Linked DNA regions of Homo sapiens. The protein of the gene in region 4 interacts with the protein of the main gene of each other region in a pairwise test. Each region holds a gene or a part of one and is shown on either strand. Other genes may lie near its edges. The genes, in order: SLC35F6, ABHD16A, TRAF3IP3 and CBARP.

Region 1 (7,884 bases), on a different chromosome or scaffold from region 4:
GTCTCTGGGCTGGCTGAGAGGCTGGCAGCCCAGTCCTGGAGAGAGGCACATCAAAGGCTGGGAGCGCAGATGCCACTTACAGGTTTACAACTTCCACAAGCACAGGCTTCTCTGTCCTGGCCTGGGGAGCTGTGAGAGGAAACTCCCAGGAAGGAGGGACTCTGGGGTATCACAGTCATAAAAGAACAGGACTTAAAGTCCTGAGGCCTGGGTTCCAGCCTTCATTCAGACACCAAACAGTTGAATCACAGAAAGAAACTTCTCCTGAGGCCTCCTTTGTAAATTGTGGGGATTAGACTGGATGATTTCTATGCTTTTAACAACTCTAAATGACCCCAAAATGACTGGAGAAGTCCCCAGCCACACCCTCCAGTGGTGGTTAAGAGCATGGATGCTAGAGCCAGACCATGCTGGCTCAACTATAAACTCTGCCACTTAGTAGCTAAGTTGAACTTGGGCAAGGAATTTAATCATTTCCTACCTCAGTTTCCTTATACAGGAATATCAGCCCCTGTCTTTGCCTGATAGGGTGGTTATGAGAATTCCCTGAGTTCACACATGAAAGGGCAGAGCAGGGCCTGGGGCATGCGAGGTGCTCTTTGTGCATGAGATGCTTCTGCTAGTTGTCAGCACATGCTTGTCTGTCTGTGCCTGCTGGAAATCGTGGGTCAAAAATGTGATTTCCTTTTATTTTTTTTTTTGAGACCGAGTCTCACTCTGTCACCCAGGTTGGAGGGCAGTGGTGCAATCTTGGCTCATTGCAACCTCCGCCTCCCGGGTTCAAGCAATTCTCCTGTCTCAGCCTCCCAAGTAGCTGGGACTACAGGTGCGCACTACCACGCCCAGCTAATTTTTGTATTTTTAGTAGAGATGCAGTTTCACCATATTGGTCAGGCTGGTTTCAAACTCCTGACCTCAAGTGATCCAGCCGCTTCTGCCTCCCAAAGTGCTGGGATGACAGGCGTAAGCCACCGCGCCGGGCCAGAAATGTGATTTCAAATCCATACTTCACATCGGGGTGCATGCAGCTGCTCCCACATGTTCTTTCTCCCTAAGAGTATCCCTTCTTGTGGTTTGACCTTAGAACACTGTTTAGGGTCCAATTTGGGGGCCCATCTTGGGGTGGGAGGATCCTGAGAGGCCCCACACCAGCTGTCAGGCAGGGGACAGGACCAAAAGTTGGGTCTGTCACCTGGGAGCCTCTTTCCTGACTCTCAGGCAGCCTTTAAAGGCGACGCCTTCTGGGATTGAGGATCTCTAAGCTTCCTACCTGACTGGTTTGGAGTTTTCTAAGGAAGGAGGTGAATCAGCACAGTTTACCCCAGCAGTAACTGGCAATCTGGATTCTCCTTGTGGGCAGCAGCCCTGGTGGACTTACAACCGCTCTCTAAGCACTTGACAGAGGCCCTGGCTGGCATGACAGAACAGAAGACTTGCTTTGCTGTGTTCAGATCCTGAGATGGGAGCCCTCAGGCTGGGGCCTCTGAACAGCTAAGGATTCAGCATGAGGAGTGATCCTCAGGAGGATGCAGGGCCTGGGAAGCTAGTAGTTCTCCACAAGGCACAGTTGGCCAGAGGTGAACCAGAGGAACAGGTGGGGCCCACCCAGGACTCCACTGACTGTGCCCACCGTTTGGGGAAGGGAGAACACTGTGACTGTCGTGTGCGTACACGTCTGTCTCCTCCACCTCAGATTCCAAGCATCTCAAAGGCAGAGATCGCCTCTTGGTCACTTCTGTCCCCTTCCCTTACACACCGTAGGTACCTTATACATGGGATCGTGCCATTGCACTCCAGCCTGGGCAACAAGAAAAGGAGGGGCAGGAAGGCCCTGCCCTGAGATGGAGACAGAGAGAGACAAAGAAATGCCATCCTGCCCACAACAGAGGGGAGGCTAGGCCCTGTCCCTCAGTCTCATGACTGCCTGGGTCCTTAGTCCCTAACCTCCTGGGAACTGTCCCCCCTCTCACCCCCATACATCAGAGCTGAACTGGCCACTTGCCCTCTCTGTCTGAGTTAATGGCACTTTTCTTCTCCCAGGCAGAAACCCTGGAGTGATCCTTGTTTCTTGCTCATGTGGGTCAGGCCTGTGGCCATTCACACCTGGTCTCTGCCACCAGTTGTCCCTTCCTTTCTCTTCTCACTGCCACCTCCTAGTTCCCCTCATCTGCTATGCAGCAGCCTTGGAGTGGTTTTTCCTGCACCAAACCACTCCTCATGTCATTGAGTCAATCATATCACTTTCAACATGTCATTCCCCAGCTCAAAAGCACTTTTCTGATTATGAGAGAAAATCTAACCTGGGCATTTGATGCTGGTTACAATCGACTTTGATCTGGCCTTTCCGTAGACTTTCCTTGACTTACAGTCTCAGACACATTCCGAAATCCCACCTAAGCTTCAAAGCACAGCTCTAACCCCTCATCCTTGAGGGGCCGTGGGGCACCTCCCTGTCTGCCGCTTGAGGCCTCCACGCTCACTGGGTCACTCGGCCTGCACAGCCACTACTGCGGCTCATGTGCACAAGTCCAGGGGTCTCTCCCAGCTCGTGGAGGGAGGTGCTCAGGCTTGGACGCCAGCACTGGAAGGGCCGTGGAAAGGAATCGGCCAACCCTCCTGTTAAAAGACGTGGAAACAGGAGCGGAGGCTGTACAGCAAATCAAAGCCGGGGCTCGGATCCCCCCGTCCGGGGCGCAGCCCCGCTCCGCATTTCCCCGGGCCTCGCATCCCTTGGGTGGTCATAACGCGCGCGAACTGACCGGAGCAAGTGGGAAAGCAGGGGAAGCCAGGAGGGCAGGGCCAAGAAGGGGGAAGGCGTAGAACGAGCGCCGGGGTCGCCAGGGCCCGCACGCCCGGCAGGGCCCAGACTCACTTTGCCGAGAGCGTGTTGATGGAGCCGGTAACAAGCATGAGCCCGGCCAGGAACAGCTGGTACTTGGTCCAGGCCATGTCGGCGGACGCTGGGGTTCGCTCCAGTTAGCGGCGCCGGGCCCCGTCACCCGGGGTCTCCTGCGCGAGCGCTTCCGGGCCGGGCGTCACGTGACCCCTCCTGCTCGCCCCGCCCCCGGGGAGCGCGCCTGAGCCACGGTGCCCGCGCTCTGCCGAGTCGTCCTGGAGCGCTTTGGTGGCCACGCCGTGGCCCTGGCAAATCACGGCCCAGGCCTTCCAGTTTTTTTTTTCTTTTCTTCCTCACTCTCCCCCGCCTTTTTGGGTTTCTTTTTTCTATTTTTTTGAGAAGGAGTCTCACTCTGTCGCCCAGGCTGGAGTGCAATGGCATGATCTCGGCTCACTGCAATATCCGCCTCCTGGGTTCAAGCGATTCTCCTGCTTCAGCCTCCCGAGTAGCTCGGATTACAGGCGCCCTTCACCACGCCCGGCTAATTTTTTGTATTTTTAGTAGAGACAGGGCTTCACCATGTTGGCCAGGCTGGTCTCGAACTCCCGACCTCAGGTGATCCGCCCTCCTCCGCATCCCAAAGTATTGGGATTACAGGCGTGAACCACCGCGCCTGGCCTTGGTTTCTTATTTTTATCTTTGGGTCTTCCTATTTGTAAAAGGGGCGGATGGGACAGTGCAGTGAGGGTGCATCGTGGCTATTACAGCATTTTGTGAATCGTTTTGAGAGGTTGAGCTGGGCGGTGTCAGAAAGGAGCCCTGAAGTGGGCCTGCCGGGAGTTCCTTGGGGACCCTGTAGAGAGGAGATTCCCACGCTGGACGTTTCCACTTCGGGGCTCCTATCTGATACCGCCCACCTTGGGCACAGTTCATATCTTTCAGCAAAGTGGCGAAGGCATCTAGCTCCAGTTGCCGAGGACACCATTTTATAGCTGAGGACAGTAAATTCAGCGAAGCAGAGTGATTTGCTTAAGAACCTGCTGGTGAGCAGTGGGGTAGGGATTTGCGCTTGGGTTCTCCAGTCTCCAAAAATCCGTGCCTTCCGCATGGCCTCTGCACCAAGCCCTGCTTCACTGCTCCTTTGTGGACTTTCTGGTCGCAGCTGAGGCATCCAGGCAGAAAGACCATCCCTAGGTTTGTTTGAAGAGGGTGTTGACGAAGAGTCACACTCTAAAATATTTGAAGGGATTTATTCTGAGCCAAATATTTGTGACCATGGCCCGTGACACAGCCCTCAGGAGGTCCTGAGAACATGTGCCCAAAGTGGTCGGGGCGCAGCATTTTAGAAAGACACGAGACATCAATCAAATACATTTAAGAAATACATTGGTTTGGTCCAGAAAGGTAGGACAACTCAAAGCCGGGAGGAGGGGAGAGGGTGGGGCAGGAAACGGGAAAAATATCTATCTATGTTAATAGAGATTTTTGTTTTTTTTTGAGACGGAGTCTTGCTCTGTCGCCCAGGCTGGAGTGCAGTGGTGCGATCTCGGCTCACTGCAACCTCCACCTCCCGGATTCAATCAGTTCTCTGCCTCAGCCTCCCAAGTAGCTGGGACTACAGGTGCCTGCCACCACGCCTGGCTAAATTTTGTATTTCTAGTAGAGATGGGGGGGGTCTCACCATGTTGGCCAGGCTGGTCTTGAACTCCTGATCCACCTGCCTCGGCCTCCCAAAGTGCTGGGATTACAGGCGTGATCCGCCACGCCCGGCCGGTAATAGAGATTCTTTACAGATGCAAATTTTCCCCCACAAAAGACAGATTTGCAGGGCCATTTCAAGATATGGCAAAGAAAAATGTTTTGGGGTAAAATCTTTTGACTTTCTTCTTAGTCACATAATATTATGCCAGAGTCAGATTGGAAAGTAAGTCATGATATATAGGGTTAAATAAAACCCATCTGATGAGAATTTATGGTTTGTAGGGCATGACTCTCCAGACCTCTTAGGTAGGAATTTGGGCAAGGTAAAAAAAATCAGAGCTTAGTCCTCAAGGGGTTCTGGTGTTTAAAATCCTACTCTTGGCTGGGTGTGGTGGTTCACACCTATAATCCTAGCACTTTGGGAGGCTGAAGCGGGCTGATTGCTTGAGCTCAGGATTTCCAGACAAGCCTGGGCAACATGGCAAAACTCAGTCTCTACTAAAAATGCAAAAATTAGCTGAGTGTCATGACAAGTACCCATAATCCCAGCTACTCAGGAGGCTAAGTAGGAGGATCGCTTGAGTCCCTGGAGGTGGAGGTTGCAATGAACTGAGATCATGCCACTATACTCCGGCCTGGGTGGCAAAGTGACACCCTGTCTTAAAAAAAGAAAAAAAAAAGGCCAGGCGCGGTGGCTCGCACCTGTAATCCCAGCACTTTGGGAGGCTGAGGCAGGTGGATCACCTGAGGTCGGAATTCAAGATCAGCCTGACCAACATGGTGAAACCCCATCTCTACTAAAATACAAAAAATTAGCCAGGTGTGGGGGTGCATGCTTGTAATCTCAGCTACTCCGGAGGCTGAGGCAGGAGAATCGCTTGAACCTGGGAGATGGAAGTTGCAGTGAGCCAAGATCGAGCCATTGCACTCCAGCCTGGGCAACAAGCGCGAAAACTCCATCTCAAAAAAAAAAAAAAAAAGAAAGAAAAAGAAAAGAAAAAACTGCTCCTAATATGCCTTTCCCAGTGCTCTAGTCTGCACCCATGCCCTGTCACGCCAGCGACAAGATCCTTTTGTTACCAGAAAGGGGTTCTGATCCAGACCTCAAGAGAGGGTTCTTGGACCTGGCACCTTGCGGGGAATCCATAAAGTGAAAACAAGTTTATTAAGAAAGTAAAGGATAAAGAATGGCTACTCCATTGGCAGAGCAGCCCCGAGGGCTGCTGATTGGTTATTTTTATGGATATTTCTGGATTATATGCCAAACAAGGGGTGGATTATTCATGAGTTTTCTGGGAAAGGGGTGGGCAATTGCCAGAACTAAGTGTTCCTCCCCTTTTTAGACCATGTAGGTTAACTTCCAGTTGCTACCATGGCATCTGTAAACTGTCGCGCGCTGGTGCGAGTGTCTTTTAGCATGCTAATGCATTATAAATAGTGTATAACAAGCAGTGAGAAAAACCAGAGGTCACTTTTGTCGCCATCTTGGTTTTGGTGGGTTTTGGCCGGCTTCTTTACTGCATCCTGTTTTATCAGCAAGGTCTTTGTGACCTGTACCTTGTGCCCACTTCCTATCTCGACCTGTGACTTAGAATGCCTAACCTCCTGGGAATGCAGCCCAGTAGGTCTCAGCCTCGTTTTACCCAGCCCCTGTTCAAGATGGAGTTGCTCTGATTTAAATGTCTCTGACACTTTGGAAAACGACTTCAGACCGAGCCAACACACTTCCCCTATGCTGCAGATCTTGTTTCTGTGGTGAGAAAAGAACTTTTACCTGAGGAATGCGAGTCCTGTAAGTTATCAGGCCCAGAGAGACATTAAAATAAGACAGCAATCACGTCCTACTCCCACTTTGAGTTATGTATTTATGTCTTGAAACTGCTTGCTATTGCCACAGGTAGCTATAACCTAACAATGCTGCACTGGACACCATATCTTACATCCTATAGCACTGTACAGCCAATCACTAATCAATGTTATTTCTGTAAACCAATGAGAATTTCTGACAAACAACTTTGTATCAGCCCACTCCCTGTCCTCCTTTTTCTGCCTTTAAAAACCTGTTTGTAACAAAGAGAGAAGGGAGCTCACATCCAAGATTACTTGCGTCTGAGTCTTTTGGGCAGCTGTCCTCATTTTGGCTCAAGTAAACTGTTTAACTTATATTTTGTGCCTTGGCACCTTCTTGTTTTTTTTAAGATGAAGTGGTGCTCTGTCGTCCAGTCTGGAGTGCAGTGGCACATTCTTGGCTCACTACAACTTCTGCCTCCCAGGTTCAAGCAATTCCCCTGCCTCAGCCTCCCGAGTAGCTGGGATTACAGGTGAGCACCACCATGCCCAGCTACATTTTTTGTATTTATAGTCGAGATGGGGTTTCACCGTGTTGGCCAGGCTGGTCTTGAACTCCTGACCTCAAGTGATCCACCCACCTTGGCCTCCCAAAGTGTTGGGATTACAGGTGTAAGCCACCACGCCCAGATGGCTAGCAACTTCATTTTAGATGAACAGGAGGTGGCCCGTGTGGTGGCTCACACCTGTTATCCTAGCACTTTGGGAGGCTGAGGCCTCCTAATCCCAGGAATTTGAGAGCAGCTTGGGCAACATAGCCAGACCCTCATCTCTACAAAAACACTTAAAAATTAGTCAGGGGTGGTAGTGCGGGCCTGTGAGCCCAGTTACTGGAGAAGCTGAGGCAGGAGGATTGCTTGAGCACAGGACTTTGAGGCTGCAGTAAACCGTGGTCATGCCCCTGCACTTCAGCCTGGGCAACAGAGCAAGACCCTATCTCACACACACACAAATTTTTTAAATTAAACAAATAGATCAACAAGAGGTACAGAGATAGGACCTGTCTGCCAACTCCTCCTACTTGCCCTAAGACAGCCTCGAACTTGTGAAAAAGGCCAGAGTGGACGCAGAACTCTCAAGGGGCTGCACCAGACTCCCTTATTGCAGGAAGACCTGCTGGAGAAGGTGTATAAGTGGGATCCTGGAAAAAACATAGGAGGTCCCCAGATAGACAGCAGAAGGGCTTTCTTGCAGATGGACATGGCATGTACAGCGGTGCAGAGGTGTGAGTGTGGAACAAGCCTGGGACCCACAGAATGTTCTAGAATTTTCTTTAATTGGAGCCTCTTCTCCTTTCAGTCAGTGCGGAGTTGGAAGACCCAGAAGAGGTTTCTTCTGAACTTTTTTTTTTTTGAGATGGAGTCTTGCTCTGTTGCCCAGGCTTCTCCTGCCTCACCCTCCCAAGTAGCTGGGAGTACAGGCGTACACCACCACACCCAGCTAATTTTTGTATTTTTAGTAGAGACAGGGTTTTACTGTGTTGGCCAGGCTGGTCTCAA
Region 2 (7,020 bases), on a different chromosome or scaffold from region 4:
ATTTTCTGGAATGGTTCTAAGGGGAGAGATACAGCAAAAGAACTGGGGCCTCACCGGCTGCTGGGTTCTTCCCAGTGGAAGTCGACTGGCCAGCTCCGGAAGTCAAAGTTGTAGTTGGCAAGCTGCCTCTGCAGTGGGCACGAGAGGCAAAGGGGTACTGAGAACTCAGGGGAGGCTCTCCTACCCACCCTCAACAACACCTTCGTTATCCAGGGGTCTGATCCCCACACATCATGGGGAAACCAAGCGGAGGTCAATACCCTCCCAATTCTCAGATGGAAAATTCTAACAGGACCAGAAAATCAGGGGAGATGGTATGCCCCATCAGGTATCAGGACTGGCCTGTCTGCCCTCTTCCAAGCTAAGAACCTAACACTCTGCTTTTCTAAAAAACTAAGTCTGACCCATCCCCAGGAGGAGTGGCTGAAGGTGCTAGTGCTTTTGAGTGACGGGTAGTAGGGGTCGCTGGCTGGTCACGGTCTATTCCCCACCTGGGTCCCTTATAGGGTGCTGTCTTAGAAGCTTAGAAATCTCCCAGCAGATCACACTGACAGACCCAAGGTTGAGTGAGACAGAGAGGAGGGAAGTCACGCCCACAGTGGGCTCCTCTGCCATGTGGGGCCACCCGTTGAAGGAAGCTCTGACTTCCATCCTCACAACTACATCCCTTCCTCAACTCCTGCAGCCATGGATCAGTGTTGCCCTACAGCCCATCCGAACCTCGGGCCACCCCACTGAGCCAGTCCACATGCCTTTTTTTTTTTTTTTGAGGCAGGGTCTCGTGCTGTTGCCCAGGCTGGAATGCAGTTGGTGCAATCATAGCTCACTGCAGCCTCAAACTCCCAGGCCCAAGTGATCCTCCTACCTTAGCCTCTGGAGTAGCTGGGACTACAGACATGTGCTACCATGCCCAGCTAATTTTTAAAATTTTCTTTAGAGACAAGGTCTTACTATGTTGCCCAGGCTGGTCTCCAACTCCTGGGCTGAAGCGATCCTCCTGCCTTGGCTTCCGAAAGTGCTGGGATTATAGGCATGAACCACCTCACCAGCTCCACGTTTTTTGACGGCAGTGGGAGCTGTGTCTTTTTTTTTTTTTTTTTTTTTGAGATGGAGTCTCACTCTGTCGCCCAGGCTGGAGTGCAGTGGCACGATCTCGGATCACTGCAAGCTCTGCCTCCCGGCTTCACGCCATTCTCCCGCCTCAGCCTCCAAGTAGCTGGGACTACAGGTGCCTGCCACCACCATGCCCGGCTAATTTTTGTACCTTTAGCAGAGATGGGGTTTCACCATGTTAGCCAGGATGGTCTTGATCTCCTGACCTCGTGATCCACCCGCCTCGGCCTTCCAAAGTGCTGGGATTACAGGTGTGAGCCACCGCGCCCGGCCTAGCTGTGTCTTAATACTTGACTATATTCGTCCCCCACCCCCTGAGCTCCTAGCACTCTATTTTGAGGGTTTTTATTTTCTGCACAGAAATTTTTTGACATTTCAAAAATAATTTGACTAACAGAGAGCAATAGAAAAATTATACAAAAAGGTAAATGGCAAAACAAAACAAGATGACTAAAAGCAAATTTCAGGCAGGCTTTGCTCAGACCTGCTCTCAAATCTGGACTTAGCCACTTTCTTGCTCTATGACTCCGAATGGGTCACTTAACCTCTTTTTGCCTCTGTTTTCTCACATTTACAAATAAAGGTAATAATGCCACCTCACTCAGCTGTTGTGAGGATCAGAAAGGGTGTGTGCCAAATGCTTCAGCCAGTAGCATAGTACAGGGCATCATTACGCAGCTCCATAGTGTGGAGTAGCCAGGAATGTGATGATGGTGGTCATAGCTGTTTGATCCTAGAAACCTCCCATAACAGAAAAGAGCTCTATGGGGCCCCAAAGCCCATCCTCAAAGATAATCACAGTCCAGCACCAGCCGGCTTGGCATAATTCCCAAGACACTGAGCCCTAGCTTTTCTCCCTCCTGGCACCATGCTGTACTCCCAGGCATAGGAGTGGACACACCTGTCCACCTTGTCCCATCCACAAACAAGGATAGCATGGTATTCAATGCATACAACAAAATTAAACATTTATAGAACTGAGCTGCTGTGATACAGAGAAAACTACCTTCTAAGAAACATTGTGGGCTGGGTGCAGTGGCTCACACCTGTAATCCCAGCACTTTGGGAGGCCAAGGCAGGTGGATCACCTGAGGTCAGGAGTTTGAGACCAGCCTGACCAACACAGCTAAACCCCATCTCTACTAAAAATACAATATTAGCTGGGCGTGGTGGCGCATGCCTGTAATCCCAGCTACTTGGGAGGCTGAGGCAGGAGAATCGCTTGAACCCAGGAGGCGGAGGTTGCAGTGAGCTGGAATCATGCCATTGCACGCCAGCCTGGGCAACAAGAGCGAAACTCCATCTCAAAAGAAAAAAAAAGAAACACTGTGGGCCAGGCACAGTGGCTCACACCTATAATCCCAGCACTTTGGAAGGCCAAGGCAGGCAGATCGTCTGCAGTCAGGAGTTCAAGACTAGCCTGGCCAACATGATGAAACCCTGTCTCTGCTAAAAATACAAAAATTGGCCAGGCACGGTGGCTCACGCCTGTAATCCCAGCACTTTGGGAGGCCGAGGCAGGCGGATCACAAGGTCAGGAGATCAAGACCATCCTGGCTAACATGGTGAAACCCCGTCTCTACTAAAAATAAAAAAATTAGCCGGGCGTGGTGGCAGGCGCCTGTAGTCCCAGCTACTCAGGGGGCTGAGGCAGGACAATGGCATGAACCCGGGAGGCCGAGCTTGCAGTAAGCTGAGATGGCGCCACTGCACTCCAGCCTGGGCGACAGAGTGAGACTCCGTCTCAAAAAAAAAAAAAAAAAATTAACTGGGCGTGGTGGTGTGCACCTGTAATTCCAGCTACTCAGGAGGCTGAGGCATGAGCATTGTTTGAACCCGGGAGTTGGAGGTTGTAGTAAACTGAGATTGTACCACTATACTCCAGCCTGAGTAAGAGTGAGACTCTGTCTCAAAGAAGAAAAAAAAAAAAAGAGGCCAGGAGTGGTGGCTCACGCCTGTAATCCCAGCACTTTGGGAGGCTGGGGCAGGCAGATCGCCTGAGGTCATGAGTTGGAGACCAGCCTAGCCAACATGGTGAAACCCCGTCTCTACAAAAAATACAAAAATTAGAGGGTGTGGGTGGTGCGTGCCTGTAATCCTAGCTACTCAGGAAGCTGAGACAGGAGAATCACTTGAACCTGGGAGGTGGAGAGTGCAGTGAGCCGAGATCGTGCCATTGCACTCCAGCCTGGGCAACAAGAGCGAAACTCCATCTCAAAAAAAAAAAAAGAAAAAGAAAAAAGAAACATTGTGGAATGTTTCTAGTTTAGCCAGTTCTTACAGGTGAGGGAGGGGGAAGATTGTTCTAGCAGAATATTCCATTAGAAGTGGTAGGGAGGAAAAATTCCTCAGGTGGACAGTTCACTAATGGAGGTGAGAAGGGATACAGCAATGTGCAAGCAAACACCCAGTGTGGTGGGTGGTAAAACACACCTCCTCTTCCTGCAGAAGCCAGTGTCTGGTGCTCTGAGGGACAACTGAGAAAGCTGCTATTGGGTGCCTGTGTGGCACTTTTCCTAGGGCCTCTCACCTTGTTTTCTGAAGACTGGTTCCGATGTGTTGCTTCCAAGATGGTGATGAACTGCCGGTACTGGGGGTTGGTCCAGCGGCCAATGCCTGGTAGAAAAAGGACAGGAAACAGTGCTAGGAAAACTGGGAAGCAGAAAGCCTAGGTTTTAGGAAAAGAATTGGAGATGGGCTAGAAGAAGGCCCTGTAAGAAAAAGTGAAAGAAAAAGGAACTGAGGGCATAGGATGCGGAGAAATAGATGTGAGCCAACCCCCTTCCTCCAAATCCAGCAACTGGCTACAGGACGCTTCTTCTCCCTAGCTTCTGCAGTTTGTGTCTTTATAGACAATCCTTAACCTACCATCTTCCAGAATGTTCCTCTTCCTCAGTCTTTAAACACTGTCATATAACCTATTAAATGACACTATTAAACACTATCATATAATACTATTCTCCCTTGCGAATATCAAATTTCTCTATTTTTCACTGCCATTCTTCTCCAATGTTTGCTTTCTGCCTCTTTTCTGTATATTCTAGCCCCTTGCCATCTGGCTTCAGAGTCTCCGACTCCTGCCCATAATTACTTCCTCACTGAATTCCTGACTCTTCTATCCTCATTCTCTTCAACTGTACTACTCAGCATTCTCCCTGTCCCTCAAGATTCTTCCTGCCTCTGCTTCCTGGGCCCATCCTTGACTCCTTCCAGTTCCTGAACAGTTCCTCTCCTGCCTCCTTTCTGCTTTCCTTTCTGAAGCAGAAGCAACTCTCAGTGCTGACTCTCTCTCCTCTCTCTTTTCACTTACACAGTCAGTGATTGCATCCACTCTCCTTTCACTGCTGAGCCACCTCAAACCCTAACTTCTCTCCTCACTGACTTGGCAGGTGTCGTGTGTCAGACAGGCACCGTACTACACACGGGAGACTCAGCAGGAAATGAGATACACAGCTCCTGGCTCTCAGAGAGCTGGCATTCTGGTTGGGGTTAGGTACAGCCAGGAGAAGACAATAAACAACATTTCAGAGAGGGATAAGTGCTACAGAGAAAATACAACAAGAATGAACCAGAACTTTATGTGTCATCAATGGTATTCCCCCAAAACGATATGATGAGAGAATGATGTGTGCTGCAGAATGATTTGTACAACATTTATGCCAAAAATGTAAAATGTGCAAAATAATACATACTGCTTATAGATACCATATTTCATAGATTCTAAAATGTATATTTTTTAACCCTTGAAAACTCTGAAATTAGAATTCATTTTACAATTGATGGCAGCTTAGACTTGAGGAACTGAGGTATATGTTTCATAAAAGTATGTGCCAGAAAAAAAAAAAACCCACACCAAATGACAATTATTACTTCTGAGGAAAGAGGAAGATGGGACTGAAAGGATTCCAATGGGAACTCCAACCCTAACTGTGGTGCTTTAGTATTTTGTTGACAGAAAGCATTTAAAGCAAATATCACAAAACTATATATAAAAAAAAAATCACAAAACTATACATCAAAAAATTTAAAAAGGCTTTTATATTTTGTTCTCTGGACTTTTCTGTATTTTTTCTTTTTTCTTTTTTTTGAGACAGTTTTGCTCTTGTTGCCCAGGCGGGAGTGCAATGATGTGCTCTCGGCTCACTGCAACCTCCGCCTCCCGGGTTCAAGTGATTCTCCTGCCACAGCCTCCCAAATAGCTGGGATTACAAGCGCCCGCCACCATGCACAGCTAATTTTTTCTGTATTTTTTCTAAATTAAAAATAAATAAAATAAAAAACTAAGACAAAACTGAGCAGTGGGAGCTACTTTTAGACAGGGTGGTCAGGGAAGGCCTCTCTGAGGAGAGAGCCCAGCCCTGCAGAGATCAGGGGGCAGAACACCTCAGGCAGAAGGTCCTGGACCCAACTGCGACCATCCAGCCCTGACCCCACCACCCCCATGTTGAAGCATCGCCCATCACCTGGTTGTCATCTTATGTACCCACTAGGGGTAGGTGATCTGTCCTCTTTATTTTTTTAAATTGCGAGATACAACATATGTACATAAAACATATATTCAGTTTAAAAAATACAAAGCAAACATTCATGTGACTATCACCTAGGTCAACAAAGAGAACACAGCCACCTCTCAGCAGGGCTCTCCCCCACTCTGTTCTCCCCCACCCCAGGTAATCACTCTCCTAACTTTTGAGAAAACCATGCCCTTGCTGGGCGCGGTGGCTCAAGCCTGTAATCTCAGCACTTTGGGAGGCCGAGGCGGGTGGATCACGAGGTCAGGAGATTGAGACCATCCTGGCTAACACGGTGAAACCCCATCTCTACTAAAAAATACAAAAAAACCTAGCCGGGTGTGGTGGTGGGCGCCTGTAGTCCCAGCTACTCGGGAGGCTGAAGCAGGAGAATGGCGTGAACCCGGGAGGCGGAGCTTGCAGTGAGCCGAGATCGCGCCACTGCACTCCAGCCTGGGGGACAGAGCGAGACTCCGTCTCAAAAAAAAAAAAAAAAAAAAAGAAAACCATGCCCTTGTTGTCTTCGGTGTTCTACCTCAAACATGCACATCCCTTTTGAATTTTATATAAATGAAAACATACTGCATACATTATTTTGTGGTTAGCTTCTTCTATTTAACACAACATTTGAGAAATTCATCTGCATTGCTTTTGTTTATCTGGAGACAGAGTCTCGCTCTGTCACCCAGACTGGAGTGCAGTGGTGCTATCTTGGCTCACTGCAACCTCTGCCTCCCAGGTTCAAGCAGTTCTCATGCCTTAGCCTCCCAAGCAGTTAAGACTATAGGCATGTGCCACCATGCCCAGTTAATTTTTTGTATTTTATTTTTTCTGAGATGGAGCCTTGCTCTGTTGCCCAGGATGCAGTACAGTAGCGCAATCTTGGCTCACTGCAACCTCTGCCTCTTGGATTCAAGCAATTCTACTGCCTCAGCCTCCCGAATAGCTGGGATTACAGGTGCTCACCACCATACCTGGCTAATTTTTTTTTGTATGTTTAGTAGAGACGGGGTTTCACCATGTTGGACAGACTGGTCTTGAACTCCTGACCTCTGGTGATCTGCCTGCTTCAGCCTACCAAACTGCTAGGATTACAGGCATGAGCCACTGCACCTGGCTTCATCTGCGTTGTTGAGCGTAGCTACAGTTTGTTCATTTGCATTGCTATATAGTGTTCTCTTGCATGGCTATTGCATGGAACTTTTTTTTTTTTTTGAGACGGAGTCTTGCTCTGTTGCCCAGGATGGAGTGCAGTAGCGCAATCTCGTCTCACTGCAACCTTTGCCTCCCAGGTTCAAGCTATTCTCCTGCCTCAGCCTCCTAAGTAGCTGGGATTACAGGCACGTGCCACCATGCCCAGCTAATTTTTGTATTTTTGGTAGAGACGGGGTTTTAC
Region 3 (7,020 bases), on a different chromosome or scaffold from region 4:
GATTCCTGAGATGGAAGTATCCTTCAGAATGCTTACCTGGGTACAGGTGTATAGCTGGTTTTCTAAGGATCTCAGTTTCCCCTTCAGTTTGTCTTCATTAAGCTGTCCCTGGAGCAAATGGGATGAGTTAATGAGCTTGGGGCAAAATCTAGTCTGCAAAGAGTTTGACTCTATATTCCTATTCTACTGCCCAGCACATGGTTGGTGCTCAAACAGTGAACTCTTTCAGGAGGCAGGCAGGAGCAAAGATGACAAAGGATGCTGGATAGAAGAGGATCTTCTCCTGTTTCTCTGGACTAGGACAAGAAAGAATAAGACTGGCCTCAAGTCCTCTTTTTACCTCGATTTTTATCAAATGGCTCAGGGTAGCATAGCAGGGGGGCCCCGGAAGGAAAGCTTCTAAGCTACCCTTTCGCTCACTATCTCCCTCCCCTGTCTAGGCACTTCTGCACTCCTCACCTCTTCTCAGTCTTGTACGTGGACTTTTCCCTGTAAAATGTAGGCCAGTGAGGCTAACGCAGTCTCCCCTCCCGGGAGAATGTTTATTCCCTCCCTTGCCCTCGGTTATGAGCTCATTTATATCTCCTCAACATTTCTATGTTGAAGTCCTAAGCCCCGAGTGCCCCAGAATGTGACCATATTTGGAGAAAGGGTCTTTAAAGATGTAGTTAAGTTAAAATGAGGCCATTAAGCTGGCCCTAATCCAATATGATGGATGTCCTTATTAAAAGAGGAGATCAGGGCACTGCAGGAAGGCCATGTGGAGACACAGAGAGAGATGGCAATCTGTAAGCCAGGAAGAGAGACCGCAGGAGAAACGAACTCTGCTGACACCTCGATCTCAGACTTTTAGCCTCCAGAACTATGAGAAAATAAGTTTGTTTTTGAAGTTCCCCTGACTGTGGTACTTTGTCATAGCAGCCCTAGGAGATTAATACACTCCCCTCCCTGCCACACACACCTCCACATGCACACACACACCTCCATATACACACACCTTCACATGTGCACACACACCTCCACATGCACACGTACACTTCCACCTGCACACATACACTTCCACCTGCACACACGTACCTCCACCTGCACACACACACCTTCACATGCACACGCACACCTGCATATGCACACGCACACCTCCATATACACACACACCTTCACATGCGCGCACACACCTCCACATGCACACGTACACTTCCACCTGCACACACGTACCTCCACCTGCACACACACACCTTCACATGCACACGCACACCTGCATATGCACACGCACACCTCCATATACACACACACCTTCACATGCGCGCACACACCTCCACATGCACACGTACACTTCCACCTGCACACATACACCTCCACCTGCACACACGTACCTCCACCTGAACACACACCTTCACATGCACACCTTCACATGCACACGCACACCTCCATATGCACACGCACACCACATGCGCACACACACCTCCACATGCACACGTACACTTCCACTGCACACATACACCTCCACCTGCATACACGTACCTCCACCTGCACACACACACCTTCACACACACCTTCACATGCACACGCACACCTCCATATGCACACGCACACCTTCACATGCACACACACCTCCACATGCACACACCTCCACCTGCACATGCATACCTTCACATGCACATGCACACTTCCACCTGCACACACACCTCCAGCTGCACACGCACACCTCCACATGCACAGATACACCTCCACATGCACACACACACCTTCACATGCACACGCACACCTTCACATGCAGATGCACACCTCCGTAGGGACACACACCTCCACCTGCACACACATACCTTCACATGCACACACACACCTTCACATGAACACGCACACCTCCACATGCGCACGCACACCTCCACATGCACACAACCTTCACATGCACACACATCCATATGCACACGCACACTTCCACATGCATGCACACTTCCACCTGCACACACACACCTCCACCTGCACACACACCTCCACATGCACACGCACACTTCCACCTGAGCACACACACACATCCACATGCACACGCACACCTCCACCTGCACACACACACCTCCACATGCACACGCACCCCTCCACATGCACACGCACACCTCCACCTGCACACGCACACCTTCACCTGCACACGCACACCTTCACCTGCACACGCACACCTCCACATGGCACACACACACTTTCACATGCACACACACACTTCTATATAGACACACACCTCCACCTGCACACACACACCTCCATATGCACACACACACACCTCCATAGGCACACGCACACCTCCACCTGCACACGCACACCTCCACCTGCACACGCACACCTCCACCTGCACACACACACCTCCACATGCACACACACACCTCCATATGCACACACACACCTTCACATGCACATGTGCACCTCCACCTGCACACAACTTCCAGCTGCACACACACCTCCACATGCACAGATACACCTCCACATGCACACACATTCTACCTGGACACACACACCTCCACCTGCACACGCACACTTCCACCTGCACACACATACTTTCACATGCACACGCACACTTCCACATGCACACACACACCTCCACATGCACACACATACCTCCACCTGCACACACACACCTCCACATGCACACACACACCTCCACCTGCACACACACACCTCCACATGCACACGCACAATTCCATCTGGACATACACACTTCCATCTCCACACACACACCTCCACCTGCATACATACATTTCCACATGCACACGTACATACTAGACTCAAGATGAGAACTTCTTTAAGAAAGCAAGAAACGGAGAGATATTAAAGCAGAGTGAGGGCGGCAGGGGGTGTAAGGGAGCTTCCCAGAAAGTCACATTCTATTTATTCATAAGCTGGGGCTGTCTAATGGTATTTTCGACATTCCAAGAAAGATGCTAATCTCAAGGGCGAGAGGGGAGCAAGGCCGGCATGAAGAGCCAATCTGTTTCTCGGTTTTTCAGTATTTCAGCTTAGTAGCTACAGCTTCCCTGCCACTTTTTTGTCCCCTCCCTTTGTAGACTTGCCCCTTTTGCCCAGGTAGGGGTTTTGTTCTTCCAGCCTGGAGTTTTGTGTAGGGTGTATCTGTGTAGGGGAGGGGGCGGAGGAGCCATCAATGAGAGCAAGTTTTCCAGAGAAAGGGCAGTGACCGGTTTTCCTATCTTTTCTCTGGCTTTTTCCAACCAGGCCAAGTGGGACGCTTGTGAGGTCTTGAAATTCCACCTCTCTTTAGGCCCGAGACGCCATGGGCTCTCTCAGCCAGATGGCCTGGACATTTCCATCTCTTATAACATTTCCGGTTTGTAATGGTCTGGGGGTAGAGGAGGGGGCTCGGCTTTGAGGTCCGCCTCCCTCAGTGAGTTTCAGGGTGCCTGGGAGAGGCAGGAAGTGGTATCTCGCAGCTCCTGTTTTGATCTTGTTTGGCTTATTCTTCTAACCATGGGAGCCAGGGGGTGCCCCCACCCTTTCAGCTTCCTGTGTTACTCAGCTGGGGCTTGCAAAAGCAAAAAGTGTTGCCAAAAATAATTTTTTAAAGTGCCTCCTGCTATTAATGTTTTTCCTAACGTCTCATGTGAGGGAGAGCAGAGAGTCAGGGATTTGGCATCTACAATAAGCAGAGGGCTTTGGGACCGATGGAAGACGTGGACAAAGACTTCTACTGTTTGAGCTTTGAAGTAACTGGTAAAACGGCTGCATTCCACTGTGGCCTGTTCATTGTCAATCCACAGGTCCTGAAATCAACTGGCTCTACACCTACCTCCTCTGGTTCACATCTTCGGTTCCACACATTTGCCTTTGCCCAAACTCTTTCTATGCAGAATGCAATCAAACCTACCAAATTTAAGGTTTATCTTGCTGTATTTTGGGAATATAGCAGGCCTAAGGCAATATTCTTAAAATTTTCCCAGTCTCCTACCCTTTTGGGGTACCTCCTCTCTCCCCATTCCATAGTATGGCTTTAATCCAATATTTTGCCTCTTTCAACTGTTTTTGTATTGGCCCAACCCCAAATTACTTTTCCATTCGTGTTGCAACGGAAGACAATTTACCATAGCCACTTCAGTGGGGATGAAGGGCCACCCAAGTCTGGAGCTTGAATGAAACCTCTTTCCACAGCTCTGCTTTTCTGGACTCCCCAAAACGTCATAAAAGTCGCAGCCAAGTTGTTGCAAATCGGGCATGTAGTTTCCTGGTCTGAGCCCCAGGGTCCCCCACACTGAAGCCCAGTGTTACAGTATGTGGGAAGAAGCACTTTTTACAGGCCTACTGCTGACATTCTAGGCAGTTAGACCCCGGGAGCCGAGGGCTCAGAGGGCATATAAACCCCAGTGAAGAGAGGAGCAAGGCGGAGGCCATACACACCTGGTGCCGGTCTGAGGTCTTCAGCTCCTGCTTCTGCGTGGTTTTCCCCTGCCTCTGATCTGCTCTCCAGAAACACCACCACCTCACCACAGAAGCACCAGCCCACAGCTCATCTCTCTGCTCTAGTAGAGGTTGCTTAGGGCTTCAGCCAATCCCCGCTGCGCTGTCATCTCAAGATCTTAATTCCAGGACGCAGATCTTCAAACCCAAGGCTGCCCTGCTCTCGTTTTTGTATTGCACAATATTGAAAGCTTGCTTTCTCTGCTAGTAGAGCTGTTTCTGCCCTGAAGGTTGGACCCTCCTCAGGAGTCTCAATAGTGCCCCAGAGCCTATGGTATCCAAAAGGCCCAGAGACATCCGGAGGTGAAGCCAGCGGAGGGAGCTGATCCTTGGGATTCTAATAGGGAGTTTGTGGTAAGTTCTCAGCATGTGAAGTTGGAAATTCAAATTTATGAAGGTCAAATGGCAAAAATAAAGGTCTGAACCAGTTCTGGCCACTTTCTTCCAATTATTTTTCCCAGATACCACAGTTTGGGGCTATACTTTTATTGGAGTTGAGGCTTTCATGGAAGAGATAGAGAGTTGAATTACCTTATTTTAGGGGAAACAATAGCTGTTAACTGAAAAAGTCTGAGACTGTTTTTCTTTAAAACTGGAAGCTAGGGGGTTGGTGGGGAGGAGGGACAAAGAAGAGAAGGGTGAGGATTGGGAGGGGTGAGAAGAAGGGAGGGAGGAAACCACAACCAAGGGAACTTCTGCTCTTGGGCTGGAGCATGGGGTGAAACTCCTCCTTGGAGACAAACCCAGAAATGTCTCTTAATATATCCCCCCTCATTCCCACAAAGCTTGCTTTGATTCAAGCTCTGGTTGTGTCTTACCTGGGATATTACAAGAGTCTCAACTCCCCCAACCCCTGCTTGGAGCCAGGGTTCTTATTGCTACAAGTTAGATAATCCTTGAACCCTCCCCCCTCTTTTTTTTTTTTCAAGACAGGGTCTTGCTCTGTTACCCCATGCAGGAGTACAGTGGTGCAGCCTGGACCTCCTGGGCTCAAGCGATCCTCCTGCCTCAGCCTCCCAAGTAGCTGTGACTATAGGTGTGTACCACCATGCATGGCTAATTTTTTTATTTTTAATAGAGATGAGGTCTCACTATGTTGCCCAGGCTGGTCTTGATCACTCAAGTGATCCTTCTGCCTTGGCCCCCCAAAGTGTTGGGATTACAGGTGTGAGACACTGCATCCAGTTGGAAATTACAGAACTTTTTAAGACACAGATCTGATCATTCACAAGTCATTTCCTCAGATAGTAATTGCATACCTTCTAAGGATGAGCCAGACATTGCTAAGTGTAGGACTTTATACCTCAATAAAGCATAGTTCCATTCTTACTCAGCTTATTACCTATAGCAGTGTTTCTCAAGCTGGGTAGCATGCATTCTAAAGGATCTCTGATTTTATATATATACATATATGGGTTTCCTTTAAAAATGGGTCCATGCATTATTCAAGTTTGAGATACCTTGTTCAACAGAAAAAGTTTAAGACCCATAATTCTAAAGACCTGTCTGAGATCCTTTCTTTGGTACTACTCTGGCATACCTTCATTTCAGCCATACTCTGCTATACCCAATTCTTTGCCATACATAGGCCTGTAATCATTCCAATTCCTTTACCTTAAACACTCTTCTACTTTCTGCTTTTTTCCCTCATCATCACTCTTGCTTCTCTACTGGTTAGCTCCTACTCATCCTTCAAGATTCAGCTAAAATGGTTTCTTTCCTTTATTTTTATTTTTTGAGACAGAATCTTGCTCCGTCACCCAGGCTGGAGTGCAGTGGCACAATCTCAGCTCACTGCAACCTCCACCTCCTGGGTTCAAGCAATTCTTGTGTCTCAGCCTCCTGAGTAGCTCGGACTTCAGGCATGCACGATTACGCTCAGCTAATTTTTGTATCTTTAGTAGAGACGGGTTTTCGCCATGTTGGCCAGGCTGGTCTTGAACTCCTGGCCTCAAGTGGTCCACCTGCCTTGGCCTCCCAAAGTGCTGGGATTATAGGCATGAGCTGCCGTGCCTGGCCAGGTTTCCTTCCTTTAAAGCCTTCCCTGTTCCACCTCAGGTGGAATAATTGCTGCCTTCTTTCTCTTTTTCCTGCATCATGCTTTATGCACTGCTGCTATAGCCTTATTATACTGTTTTGGTGTTATTTATTACATGTCTCTGTCTTCATGGCTGGACTGTGAGCTCCTCAAGAGTTAGGACTGTAATGCTCTTTGCCCCTGTAGCACAAGGCCCAGCACAGAGTTGGAACTTATCAAATGACTGTCAAACAAATGAGTGAGATGATCTCAATTTAGTTCAGGACCAGAAACCACCTCACGTGCACAGCTGTCTGCCCCAAGTTCCTGCTCTGTCAATGAAAATGACCTAACAATCAGGAGCTCTGACCACAGATTGAGAAATCCAGGTACAATGTCTGACGTGAGGAGCAGGGCTGAGCTTAGGAAATCTTTTTTACATCACTGCAACTTCTCAGTTTTGTTCCATACTCTCCCATCATCTTTCTTTCTCTGCTCAAGCCATCTTCAAGGTAGGGTGAGATGTCACACAGGCCGGTGAGGTTGTG
Region 4 (7,020 bases):
AAGCCGCGCGGCCGCTTTGGTTTTTTGTTTGGTTGGTTCCATTTTCTTTTTTTCTTTTTTTTTTTAAGAAAAAATAAAAGGTGGATTTGAGCTGTGGCTGTGAGGGGTGTTTGGGAGCTGCTGGGTGGCAGGGGGGCTGTGGGGTCGGGCTCACGTCGCGGCCGCCTTTGCGCTCTCGGGTCACCCTGCTTTGGCGGCCCGGCCGGAGGGCAGGACCCTCACCTCTCCCCCAAGGCCACTGCGCTCTTGGGACCCCAGAGAAAACCCGGAGCAAGCAGGAGTGTGCGGTCAATATTTATATCATCCAGAAAAGAAAAACACGAGAAACGCCATCGCGGGATGGTGCAGACGCGGCGGGGACTCGGAGGGTGCCGTGCGGGCGAGGCCGCCCAAATTTGGCAATAAATAAAGCTTGGGAAGCTTGGACCTGGCCGTCTGGGTTTTGTTCGCGTCTCAACGTGGATGGGGCGGCAGCGGGGCGGGCGCCGTTGACATGCGGAGGGCAGTGGGGACTCGGGGCGCGGGAGGGCCGGGGCCGGCTCCCTCAGGGCCGGCGGCAGCAGCGGTGGCGGCGCGGTTATTGCTCGGAGGCGGCGCGGGCTGCCGCCAGCACACGCCGCAGTGAGGTAAACGGTCTCGGAGGTCGGCAGTCACGGTGTTGAGCCGCCTCCCGGCCCAGGGCGGCGAACTCGTCTGCGACCGTTAGCGCCCCGCGGCCCCCGCCCGGGCGAGCTCGCGCACGCGCCCGGCACGCGGCGGCTCCATCGGGCCCAGTGGGCTGCGCGACCCTCGGGTGGCGGGCCCTGCGACTAAGCGGCCGCCCCGTCCGGGACTGAGGGCGAGTGATCGTTGTCCTCAGGAGCCCGAAGCTGAGAGCCGTTCACGCCCCTTCCTTCCCGCCCAGCCGGGGTCTCCGCGGCCCGCGCCTCACGACGCCCAGCACCCGGCAAGCACCGGAAAGAGCAGTGCACACTTCGGCGGCGCGAGGGCGGCCGGGGCTCTGCGCCTGCGCCCTGAAGCGGCGAGCGCGCCTCCGTCGCCCGGCGCGTGCGCGAAGGGCCCGCGGTCCCCGCGCATTCGCGTCGGGGCGTCGCGCCCCCACGTCTCTCCCGCCGCCGAGGCCCCGTGCGGCGCCGGAGAAGCTGCCAGAGAGATGGGCCCAGGACGCGGGACTTAGGCCGGGCTGTGGTCGGGGGACGTGGGGGCGGCGGCGACCAACGCGGGAGTCGCCACGACGGGCTCGGCGAGGCGCGGCGGAAAGAGTCTCTCGTCGAGGCCAGCCGCCAGCTTGTCCAGCACCGACCCGGATGGTAGGACGCACAGGCCCGAGCCGGGGCACCCCCCGCCGCCCGGCTCCTCCTCGATGACGGGGATGGCGGGGTCGTCGCCGGCGCCGCCCAGGGTGCGACCGTCGGGCGGGCCGTCCACGCTGTCGCCGCGCCGCAAGGGCGCACGCGCGGGTCGGGCCGCGCCGGCAGGCGGTGCCGGGGTTCCGGCCAGGGCCGGGGCCGCGCGGGCGCCGGGGTCGCTGTGCTGCCGGCCACGCTGCCACTGTTTGCGGGCGTGCGGGTGCGCGCGGGCGCGGTGTCGCGCGGCAGCCGGCGTGTCGTCGAAGTGCGGGTCGTGGCGCAGGAACTCGTGGAACAGCGCGTCCGTCTTCTCGTCGATGCTGTAGTCGCGGCGCGGGCGGCGGGGCCAGGCGCGCGGGCTGCGGGGCCGGGCGGGCGCGGCAGGTGGCTCGGTGTCGTCGCCTGCGCCGCGGCCCTCGATGCTGGCGTAGCCACTGTCCATCTGCAGCAGCCGGCGCGCCTCGCCGTCCTTGGGCCGCGGCGCGGGCGGGGAGGGCGGCGGGAAGGCGGGCGCCGCGCCCCCGGAGCCTGAGCCCGAGCTGTCGCCGCTGCGCACCGAGTCGCGGTCGTTGCCGCTGCTGCTGTGGTCCGAGGCGGCCGCATGCAGCTCAAGCGAGGCGCGCAGGCTCCACAGGTCGCGGTAGCTGGTCTGGGCCTGCTCGGGGCCCGCGTCCCGCTCGGCGTCCGGCTCCAGTGGCGGCTGCTGCTGCTCAGGCCCCGCGCTGCCCGCGCCGCGCTCCGGGGGGGAATCGGGGCTCGCTCCTCCCGCTGCCTCGGCCGCCTCTAGCCTGCAAGCCAGGCCGCGCCGTCAGAGCCCCGCCGAGCCCCGCGCCCCCTACCCGGCCGGCCATCCCGCCTCTGGATCAGGGAGGGTGGACGCGGGTGGGACTTGGGACTCGGGCGGGCCTTGGAAGGTGAGAGCTTTAAAATGAGCCAGTGTGTTTTGCAGGGGATGCGTCTTGCATTGACCCTGAGCTGTGGCGCCTGCTTATTAAGCAGGGTGCCTCCATGCTGGACTGCAGACGGCGGGGCCCCCTCCCTTGGAAGCCCCCAGGAAAAGTCAACATGCTTCTCTCCGGGAGTCACGTTTTCCCAGCCTCCCAGTGGACGTGGGAGCCGCAGGGGATGGACTGGACGCGGTTGAGTCCAGCTCAGCCCCTGCTCCAGGCTAGGGCTCTCTGCCCACCCATGCTGGATAACCAGCAGGAGGACAGTGCACAGACGTGAGGGTCACCCGCCATACCAGGGCTGCCCCAGGAACCCTGCTCTGCCCCAGCCCCACGCCCCATTCCCATCCCACCGACGTGGGCCCTGGGCTTCAGGGAAGTTGCCCTTGGGTTGGGGGAGGGGTGCTGCTGGCCGGAGTGGTCACAGCAGCTTCTGAGAGGAGTCTGCCCAGCCTTGGGAGCATGGGCGGGGCGGGGGTGGGAGAGGGCCTGGGACCACAGCAGAACCCTTCAGGCCTCGGACTCCACCAGCAAGCAGCAGTACCAGCGCCATCCTCGGGGGGCCCCTCCTCCCCACCCACCGCCCTACCCTTACCCAGTCTCTCCCTGCTTCCCTCCTCTGGTCCATGCTGGAGAGGTGGCCCCAGTGAGTCCGCCTCTGGGAGGGGCCTTGCCGCTGGAGGCAGGCGAGCGCGTGTCCACGGGGCCTGGAGAGCGCTCCCTGGGCCGCCTAGGGGGGGGCGAAGGGGGGCAAGGGCCCACAGGTCCACCCCTAGCACCTCCATCTACTGAAAAATACCTGCCGAGAGCAGGGGGCGGGCTGGCCAGAAAGGGGCGGGGGTGCGGGAAGGCCACGGCGTCGCCCGCCCGGGCAATGTACTGGATGAAGTCCTCCTGGGGGGCATCCCCCTCCTCCTGCTCCGTGCTCTCACTGGCTGCCCGCTGCCGCTGGAAGTGGTGCCGCTTGGGGGAACCTGCGCACGGGATGTGCCGTAAGCGTCAGCCGGCATGTGCCTCCACCCGCTCCACACACACACAGAATGCCTATGCCCCCCCGCCACACACACACAATGCCTGTGCCCCCCCGCCACACACAACGCCTGTGGACCCCCACCACACACACACAACGTGTGCCCCCCACACATACAACGCCTGGGCCCCCCCCACACACAGAACGCCTGTGGCCCCCATACACACACATAGAACGCCTGTGCCCCCCACCACAGAACGCCTGTGGCCCCCTCACACACACACGCCTGTGCCCCCCCCACAGAACGCCTGTGCACCCCCCATGCCTGTGCCCCCCCCACAGAATGCCTGTACCCTCCTACACACAGAACACCTGTGGCCCCCACACACACACAACGCGTGTGCCCTGTCTCTGTCTCACACACACAGGAGTGGGCCCTGGCTTGGGCCAGACCCTGGCTGGCATCTCCCCGGGTCAGGTGGGTGCGGACAGTGGCTGTGTGTACACCCTGGAGTACAGGTGAGAAAACTGAGGCACGGAGGGAAGAGGTGCTGGGACCAGAGAGCCTGAGCAGGGCAGGGCCAGGAAGCGAGTGAGTGGAAGGGCCTCTGGCACCGATAGTGCCTTGTGGCAGCCCTGGTCAACATGTGGCCACTCATAAGGGCGTGTCCTGGACACCTGGTGGCCTGCACAGCCTGGCTGAAACTACGGAAGGCATGAGAGAGTCACATACAGGCTGGTGGGGGCCAACGAGGAGAGGGAGAGAGGTGCCCTCTCCTGCCAGCTCCACCCTGGTCTGGAGAGCGCTGGGGGACTGCCCCACCCCTGCCTCGGCCCCCTTCTCCCAACAGCCTCCCCAGCAAAGCTTGAGTGGGCAGGCCCCAGCAAACAGGTTCTGGGATGTGCTGCAACCACATTGGACTCTAAATGTCTCTAGTCACCCCTGGGCCCCATTCATTTCAAGATCTGGATTCTCTCAGCTGGAGCGGGGCAGCCAGAGGAGGCCTTCCCCTCCCTGGCCCCTAGCTACCTTGGGGGTGGGGGCTGGGAGAACTCACCCCACCCCCGCTGGCTGGAGCCACAACACAGGGTCTCCCACTGTCTGATGATGTGTCCTCTGTCATGCTGACAGCACCTTCTCTCTGCACTTGTCCCCTATCCTGGCCTCACCTGACGACAGGACCTGCCACCCTGTCCACAAGGCAGAGCGGGCCCCAGCCCCTCTGGGCTGCCCTGGCCCTGCTGAGCTGGCTGAGCAGGGCTGGTGCCTGCTGCCAGTGCTACAGATGGGACACCTCTGCTCCCCACACAAACTCCTGCCTCGAGCCCAGATAAGGCAGCCCTGTCTCCAGGATCCTGCCTGACCCAAGGCCTGCAGAATTGAAGGGCTACTGTCAAACAGTCCAGGGATCTATGTGCTACAGCCCAGAGGGCAAAAGCACCCCCTGCCCCGGAGCTTCGGTAAGTTTTACTGGCACACAGCCACGTGCATTCGTCATGCAGCGCCTCTGACTGCTTCCTCGCCTCAACAGCAGCAGAGTTGTGGAGACACAGCCTCTCTGACCATAACCCCACGAACACCACCATCCGGGGCCTGATGGGAAAAGTCTGCTGACCCCTGGCCCAGTCCAACACTTACTTCGTGTTAGAGGAAGTCAGAGCCCAGACAGGCAGAGGGCCTCGGCCAAGGTCACACAGCAGCTGATGGTCTGCCAGCGGGCGAGGGAGGGGCCCCGGGGGAACCCGCCTTCCACTCACATTCCCAGGGATGAGAGCCGAGCATGGCTGGGAGGGGATGCAGGCCACAGGCCCCACCCTCTGCGCTCCACAGTGACCAGGTGGCCCCCGACACCCTCCTTTACCACCTCATCCTGGATGCCCCAATGGCCCGAGAGCAGTCGGGGCGCGCAAAGCCTTCCCGCACAGGTTCCCGGAGCTGGGTGGGTCTGGCTCAGGCCGCCCGCACACTCAGCCCTCCCAGCCACCTGCAGAACCTCAGGCAGCACGCCCGCTGGCAGACTGGGCAGGACTCAGCCCCAGAGCACCGGCTCCCCACCCAGCCCACAACCTCCTGCTCCTGGATGTCCAGGGCAGCCCCTGGCAGCCAGCACCCAGCCCACAGGGGCCCACTCTCCACCAGGTGCTACAGCTCACCTCTCGTGTCCAGACTGGCTGCCCGCTGGCTGGGCTCCAGCTTCCACTTCTTGACCTTGAAATAGGGGCTGGCCCCATCCAGGCTGGCATGGCGGCGCAGGCGGGTGAGGAACTGCAGAACGGTACCTGCCCCGGATCCCGGGCCCGCCTCCCCAGGCCCTGCTGCAGCCCCGGGCCCTCCAGCCTTGGTGCTCCTGGTACCGGCATCCAACTGGCAGGGAACAGAGATGGCGCTCAGGCTAAGACTTCTTCCTGGGCCCGTGTGCTGGCCCCAGGTGGCCGTAGGTCTGAGAGACAGTCCCAAGGGCCCCCCATCACTGGGACAGAGAGGGGTACCTGCTCGGAGAGGGGCAGAAGCGGGAGGAGGGGCGCTCAGTGGCTGGGTGGGCTACACTAAGGTGCTCTGCCCTCTGGGGAAGGTCCCTGGATATGGGGTTTGGAGAGAAAAGGAGGTGCGTGTCTAGAAGGTCTCTCGCCCACGGCGTGGGCTGCAGGTGAGGGAGGGCAGGGGTGGCGCACCCTCTCCAGAACCTAGGGAATGTCAAATGAGGTGGGAGCCTGGGGTGCCCCCTGCATGTGTGAGGACACGCCTGTGTCCGGTGTGCGGCCGGCTCCCTCTTTCTCCCGTGTGCAATGACCCGGCGGGCCAAGGAGGGCTGCGGTGGCTGGCAGGTCATAGGTTGACCTTGGTCCTGGACTGGGGACAGGGAGGGGAAGGAGCCTCCCCGGCTGTGGACACCATGGGGGACACGCAGGGGCCCTCACCGAGGTGCCTTCCCCAGAGTCGCTAGATGCCGAGGGGCTGATCTCTGCGAAGTCAGTGGCGCCCGCGGCTGAGTTGTAGGGGTCACCTGGCAGGGCGGAGCTGGGGCCCACAGAGCGGCCGGTGAGGGCCTTCCCCGGGGGCTGTGGGACAGAGCCAGGTGGGGGAGGAAGCAGTGACAGGTCAAAGAGCATGGGTGGGTGAGGGACATGGGCAGGTGAGGAGCATGCTGGGCTTGGCCCCCTGCCCTGCTCCACCCCACCCCGCCCATCCCGAGATGAGGGCCACCCAGAAAAAGAGTGGGTGAGGGCGTGGGGGTCCGGGAGTCCCCGGGGCTGCCTCCCGTCCCCCGAGGAACCGGGGCTGCTGCCCATAGGCTCACCTGGAAGATGGCCAGAGTGGCCTTGGGAGAGGTGGCCGGGTGGGGCGTGGTGGCTGAGCTGGCCTCGCCTGAGTCACACTCGTGGATGGTGACAATCTTGAGGGGCGGCAGGTGCAGGTGCGTGAGCCGGGCATTCTTCAGGTGGTGGAAGTCCCCCTCCGTCAGTGTGTACCTGCGACAGCATCTGGCCATCAGAGCCCGCCCACCTCCCATGCCCGATGCCCCAGCTGCCGTGCTCTGCCATCCACCCTGCCGGCCTGGGCAGGGGCAGGCGAAAGGGGGGCAACTGGCCAAGGCCGCCCCACCCCACGGTCCCAGTCCAGGAGCCTCTGCCTTGGTCCCTGCAGCCTCCGCACCCAGCTCCTCCCCCGTCCCGGCGGCCAGGACCTCAGACAGGCCCTGGGGTGCCTCCCAACGCCGCCCCGCTTACCGGCGACCCTTGTCCTGCGTCTTGC

Evidence for each region.
Region 1: the proteins of CBARP (region 4) and SLC35F6 interact in binary tests that used the Homo sapiens proteins (3 or more experiments, as listed by UniProt).
Region 2: the proteins of CBARP (region 4) and ABHD16A interact in binary tests that used the Homo sapiens proteins (3 or more experiments, as listed by UniProt).
Region 3: the proteins of CBARP (region 4) and TRAF3IP3 interact in binary tests that used the Homo sapiens proteins (3 or more experiments, as listed by UniProt).

The regions. Positions count from the first base shown.
Region 1 is NC_000002.12:26,759,415-26,767,298, reverse strand, and holds the start of SLC35F6 (solute carrier family 35 member F6 precursor), read right to left. Parts: upstream 3,016-7,884; 5' UTR 2,950-3,015; coding exon 2,873-2,949; intron 1-2,872. UniProt on the Homo sapiens protein: Involved in the maintenance of mitochondrial membrane potential in pancreatic ductal adenocarcinoma (PDAC) cells. Promotes pancreatic ductal adenocarcinoma (PDAC) cell growth. May play a role as a nucleotide-sugar transporter.
Region 2 is NC_000006.12:31,693,305-31,700,324, forward strand, and holds part of ABHD16A (phosphatidylserine lipase ABHD16A), read right to left. Parts: intron 3,730-7,020; coding exon 3,644-3,729; intron 129-3,643; coding exon 55-128; intron 1-54. UniProt on the Homo sapiens protein: Phosphatidylserine (PS) lipase that mediates the hydrolysis of phosphatidylserine to generate lysophosphatidylserine (LPS). LPS constitutes a class of signaling lipids that regulates immunological and neurological processes.
Region 3 is NC_000001.11:209,766,036-209,773,055, reverse strand, and holds part of TRAF3IP3 (TRAF3-interacting JNK-activating modulator), read right to left. Parts: intron 4,492-7,020; exon of another isoform or gene 4,396-4,491; intron 109-4,395; coding exon 37-108; intron 1-36. UniProt on the Homo sapiens protein: Adapter protein that plays essential roles in both innate and adaptive immunity. Plays a crucial role in the regulation of thymocyte development.
Region 4 is NC_000019.10:1,228,006-1,235,025, forward strand, and holds the end of CBARP (voltage-dependent calcium channel beta subunit-associated regulatory protein), read right to left. Parts: coding exon 6,996-7,020; intron 6,738-6,995; coding exon 6,566-6,737; intron 6,327-6,565; coding exon 6,186-6,326; intron 5,632-6,185; coding exon 5,421-5,631; intron 3,271-5,420; coding exon 3,096-3,270; coding exon of another isoform or gene 2,888-3,095; exon of another isoform or gene 2,138-2,887; coding exon 1,174-2,137; 3' UTR 282-1,173; downstream 1-281. UniProt on the Homo sapiens protein: Negatively regulates voltage-gated calcium channels by preventing the interaction between their alpha and beta subunits. Thereby, negatively regulates calcium channels activity at the plasma membrane and indirectly inhibits calcium-regulated exocytosis.